2 separate regions of the Homo sapiens genome follow, and region 1 is linked to region 2. Evidence: fine-mapped expression QTL. A gene starts in region 2. The other region holds a variant in brackets. All regions are shown on one strand. Distances are between the middles of the regions.

The links. PIP is the estimated chance that this variant, and not a neighbour inherited with it, causes the effect.
Region 1: its variant is the best candidate, but not a certain one, in a credible set for the expression of ARHGEF12 in whole blood (TOPMed, PIP 0.56).

Annotation. Positions count from the first base shown.
Region 1 is chr11:120,444,401-120,447,312 of GRCh38, reverse strand. ARHGEF12 (Rho guanine nucleotide exchange factor 12) reads right to left here. Exons shown (of 41, transcript NM_015313.3): 16 at 1,849-1,891; 17 at 805-910; 18 at 228-365. Among named protein-coding and RNA genes, the nearest start is that of GRIK4, 66 kb to the left of the region's middle. The variant T/C (reference allele first, on the strand shown) is at 1,567.
Region 2 is chr11:120,335,092-120,338,003 of GRCh38, reverse strand. It overlaps ARHGEF12 (Rho guanine nucleotide exchange factor 12), which reads right to left and starts at 1,591. Exons shown (of 41, transcript NM_015313.3): 1 at 729-1,591. The coding sequence starts at 760. RefSeq lists a silencer at 1,135-2,004.

The DNA.
Region 1 (2,912 bases), 110 kb before region 2:
AGTTTTAGAGTTACCCATTTACCACCACCCAGAAAAAGGAACACAAGAAATTTATCTAAAAGTATCAGAAAAAAGAAAAAAAAAATCCAGTTTCTCAAGTACTATGACAAAATAAACGGCTCCACATACACAATCTGACAGTTTTTCTAAACCTACCCAAAGGACACTTCAAGCATAACTAGTATCTCAGCAGAGAGGGCATTTCCACATATACTTCTATTACTTACAATACTTCTTCAATTTTGGCAACAATCTGTTCTGCACATGTCCGCTCCTTCTCCAAAGTCAATCGGTCCTTGTCTCGCTCTGCATCAAGTTTAGTCAGCTCGCTTTCAGCCAAGGTCAGTCCCATACTACGTTTCTGCCTGAAGGGAATAGAGAAGTTTCCTGAGGTAGCCTAAAGAAAAACTACCTCATTCTGGGGACGCTTCATCACAGTCTTCACAGCTATGGTTTCTAGGAACAGGAAAAATGTCACTTTTCCACTTATGGGTCCATGTCATCTAGGATACCAGAGGAAAAAATTCTAGAAGCAATGACTCCAAGAACACATACAATATCTTAAAGGAACACACTTAGCATAGACACAGCACTGAGCTCAGATCCTGCAAGTGCCTGGAATGGAGAGTCTGGACTCTCAGTTCCACTCTAACCCTTTGGCTCCAGATGTTCATTATGTTTTAATAACAATAAGACCATATGGTTTATCTAGTGCTAAGCTAAGTATTTAATGAGCAACTTTTTCTTAACTAAAAAAATTAATTTAGAATAATCATATGAAATTCTATCTACCACTAAGCTTACCGAAAATCTTCTAAGTGCCTTTGAACTTCTGGATGGACTCTTTCTTGCATAGTTTGGATATAGTGGCGATGCAGATCCTCAGGAATGAGCTCAGGTCTTCTCTTTTCTTCATAAATGAAAGGAATTATGTTATCTAAAGGTATGTTCTGGGCAACATACAATTGGCAACATAGCAATGCTACTTCGTACAAATTAACTTAGAATATGCCAGAGGGAAGTTCTTCAGGGCAGTTCGTATATTTCATCCCAGAATTCTGATTTCATTTACTCTATTATTATTATTATTATTATTATTATTATTATTATTATTTGAGATGGAGTCTTGCTCTGTTGCCCAGGCTGGAGTGCAGTGGCGCGATCTCAGCTCACTGCAAGCTCCACCTCCGGGGTTCATGCCATTCTCCTGCCTCAGCCTCCTGAGTAGCTGAGACAACAGGCGCCCGCCACCACGCCCAGCTACTTTTTTGTTTTTTAGTAGAGACAAGGTTTCACTGTGTTAGCCAGGATGGTCGATCTCCTGACCTCGTGATCCACCCGCCTCGGCCTCCCAAAGTGCTGGGAGTACTACAGGCGTGAGCCACTGCGCCCAGCCATATTATTATTTTTTTTGAGACAGAGTTTTGCTCTTATCACCCAGGCTGGAGTGTTAATGGCATAATCTCAGCTCACTGCAACCTCCGCCTCCTGTGTTCAAGCAATTCTCCTGCCTCAGCCTCCTAAGTAGCTGGGATTACAGGCATGCACCATCATGCCAGCTCATTT[T/C]TGTATTTTCAGTAGAAACAGGGTTCCACCATGTTGGCAAGGCTGGTCTCGAACTCTTGACCTCAGGTAATCCACCCACCTTGGCCTTCCAAAGTGCTGGGATTACAGGCGTGAGCCACTACGCCCGGCCTCATTTACTCTTTAAATGTATTATAGACTGTCTTTCTGTTGTGATTCAGGTGATCGACTAGTCACCATGTGACAGATAAAACCTGAACAGATGAGCTGAGCTACATATCTATTAAGATGTAATTCTCCAGGATGTTAGTGCTCCAAGCTTACCTAGATCTGCAGACATTTCATCAGGAACAGAAACTTTCAGGTGCTAAAATGAAATGCAAACAAAAGGTGTAACAACGCTAAAGATATTTGAAGATGTACATAAGTACTTCTGTAAAGTAAGGGGATACAACTTGGATACCCACTCTACAAGCACAATCAAGTACAAGCTCATTTATTCATTCACATTTCACAACTCCAGAACATTCTATCGTTTAAACTTGAAAATGAGCCCTTTTCCCGAGGATCATGCTATAAAGGAAAAGTCTACAGTCGTTTAGCTAGATGACTGAATGCTTCTGTGACACACTTAATGAATATACTGGCTTTGGCTTTGGCTTCCTAGAATCATTGGTCAATATAATCAGTTATATGTCATTTAGATCAATATAGGTAAAACCTAAATTATGTGTATATTATCATATGAAAAATGTACTCACATATAGCCATGATTTTTCTTTCCTATATTTGAGATGCTCATTCTGAAGACCAATAATATTCCTAATCGTTTTCCTATGTAAAGTTTAAGAGCCCTCACAATGTCACACTCCCAGTGAGAAAATATTGAATGTCAATGTTGAGTTTTTGGAGTTTTAAATCTCCAGCAACCATCTACAGTTCTTGCTACTGAACCAAATAAGGTGACTATCTTAGAATTTACTTATTCCTAGCTAGGATTTTCCCCATAATATTTGCATAATAATTACCAGTCTGTTGTTTTCCCCCACCCCCAAACTAATGGAGGGGAATACTTTATTATTTTGCATTAAGAGAAAATATCTTAACCTCTTCCTGCTTATTTTGTATTGTATACCTATTTAAGTCATACAATTTCAGAATTTAAACACATCCTATAAGATCTGAAGTTTTAAATTTGAAAATAAGTCACCGCTAAAAATTGTAAGATCTCTTTATATTCATTTGAAGAAAAGTAAAATGGATTTTAAAACTTTCTCTTTGACAGGCAGTAGCTCAAATCAACTTTCTTAAAAGCATTTCTAGCTCAAGTGCAAAAAAGTAATAAAAGCTCATTTCTGTATGATGGTGTATATATGAAATAAATGTGA
Region 2 (2,912 bases):
AGGACAGACACAGAACTCAACAAATTCAGCTGCGCGCTTACACTATGCTTACGGCTTATATCTCTTAAACGCCAAGTGTTTCTGGAAGACGAAATATTTAAATACAAGAATTAAAAGCAAACCCCATGATTTACCCTCATTTCTTCAGCTCCTGGACATTGCTTCCAGCAAGAACCTGTGATTTACTGGTAATGTCAACATTCTGGAAAGTTATTAGATAATAATTAAACACCGTGCAGGTCAACATCTGAAAGAGATCAAGTTCCCAGATCACCATGCAGTAGGCTCAACATTAAGTTCACAGGTAGAAATTCCTAAAATGTAATTGTCTTGAGAATCTACTGCAGGACACGGCTAAAGCTGATAAATAATACACCAATACCGAGCCGACTTCAGGCACCGACCTTCACCTAAAATGACCTTCTCCTCTGATTTCCAGACGAGTACACAATCCTAATGCACACTACAGGCGGAAAACCACAATCATGGTTTTGCCTCCCCCTTCTCTGAGAATCGGAAGGGAAGTTTCTCTCCGGAAAAATTACATTTCCAAAAGCCAATCAACTGGATAACTCGGCAGCAACCCCAGGCTAACTGCACAGCTCCGAAACAACCCTCTTTCCTCTGCCTGTCAACTTCGCTGGCCAAAGGCAATCTGCAATCACCGACTCCCCTGCTAGGTCGGGCCCGATTCCGGGAGGCCGAACGAAGGAGGAATTCATACCAACCTGTCGGTGATAGTAGACTGTGTGCCACTCATTGGGGCCCTTGGCGAGAGGTCCTCCTTTTATCCAACTTGCATTTTACAGTAACACCTCCTCCCCACCCCCAGTGCTCTGGGATCAGGCCCAACTCCGTCAGGGACACAAAAGTCCAACTCAAAACTCCATTCAGTCATCTAGACCATCCGACTGTAAGGGGTCAACGGATGCGGCTTGGAGCAAAACAAGTTATCTCCCAAAACGAACTGAGAAAGCCAGGGAGCGAGTCAGTCCAGAGTGAGTCGAGCTAGAGAGAAATCCTCCAGAAGGCACAAGGATAAACTTCCTCAGAGAGGGAAATCCGCGCGCAGTGGGAAGGGGACCCGGGACTCCCGCCGGGGCTGGGGCGGGATCAGCTCACGGACGGGTGTCGGCTCCTCCTCCGGAGTCTCGGGGCCTCGAACTCCCCGCCGCGGCAAGGGCCGGGGCCCTCCCTCCCGGCTCTCTATCTGGGGCTGCCGGCTGCTCGTGGCCGCAGCGTTGGCCGCGTCTCCGGCCGTCCCGCGCCGGGCTCGCGCGATTCCATGTCCCGGGCCCGGGGCTCCTTCTGTGCTCGCCGCCCTCACCAGGCTCCCGGTGCTGGGACGAGCCGCTGGCGCCGGCGGAGAGGTCCCGCGGCCCGAGGTGACAGGGACCCGGGTCTCTCAGCGCCGCGGACTGCTCCCCATCCCTTTGAGGCCCGGACTCTTCCGCAATCGCCAGAGGCGGCGGCTCCTCCCCGACGCTCCCCGCGAGGGGCGGGAGATGCCCGTCCGGCCCGGCCTGGAAGCCCTGGTCCGGGAGGCGGAGGCGGCGGCGTCTCCCGGCGCAGGGCCGGCTCGCCGGGTTCTGGAGGCCCTCGCGGGCGCGCGCGCAGACAGCGGAGGAGGCCGGCGGCCGTGGGGGCCGCGCAACCGCGGGCGCGCGCGCGGGTTCCGGTTCCGGTTCTGGTTTCCCGGCCCTGGCCGCGTCCGGCGCGAGCTCGCGCTTCCCGTCCCCCGCCGACTTTATGGCCCCCTCCCCTCTGACTTCGGGAAGCCGCCTCACCCGGGATCCCTCCGCCGCTCAGGGCCGCGCTCTCGCCCTTGAACGGACGCCTCCGCCGGAGCCCGGTTTGGGAGAGCGGCAAAGTAGTCCTACGGGGCAGAGGGAGGTGGGACCCGTGCAGCCCCGGGAGGCCCACCCACCTCCCGCGGCGCCTGGGCCCCTGAGTGCCGAGACATGCCCCTTCGAGTCCAGTTTGTACTAAGTCGACTTTCACCAGAGACCGCCCGAGAGCGCCCCCCAGATCCCGAGGACATCGTGCCGGGAGGCTCTTTGAAAATTACCAGCCCCCCTTGTCCTGGAAACTTTTATTACTTAAGGGAATGTATTATCTCTCCTGTCTTCTGGCTGCACGCGTTCTGCCGGTTCCCGGCCGGCGCCCCTCGCTGCCTCCGCAGGCCCCGCTCACCTGGGCACCTGCCGGCTCCGGGGGGAGAGCGCTGCATGAGCCGGAGGCGCAGGGCTGCGGGAGAGCAGCTGGGGACTGCAGCCAGGGTTTCTCGGTATAAATATTACTTTTAGGCTGTTTCTGCCTTGGCAAAATGAAATGTGTTATTTGCCAAATTGATAAAGCATGGTGCTTTCCATGGCGACTTAACAAGCGTGTTGTGGAAAGAACTGGGAGAAGAAAATGAAGTATATTTATCCAGTAAATAGCATTACGGTTCTCTCTGAAGGATTCCCAAACGGTTTTTCGGTTTTTTCCCCTACTGGGTAGAGAGCTTTAGATACCCATCTAGTTTTATGATTGAATAATTCAGTATTTTGGCAATTTAGGTACCACATGTAATACAGTTCTTCAGTTCTGCCTGCAAACATCCAAAGTGGCTATTCCCTTTATCCAACTATTTTCAGACTTTTGAGCTTAAACCTATGTTGGTGACAAGGGATTTCAGCCATTTTGTGGAATCCAAGTAGCAAATCAAATCTAATAAACAGTGGATGTGGAGAGAGGAAACAATTACCTCTTAACAATGCTGTTGCAAAAAGTCATTCCGCAACAGTTCATGAAAGGATCATTATCCCCGAATAGAGGCATGAGCTCACGCTGACGTTAGTTAGAACGGGGGGGAAAAAAAGGAAAAGATAAACAGAGACCAGAGACGACTCTTTATTGCTCGATTTTTT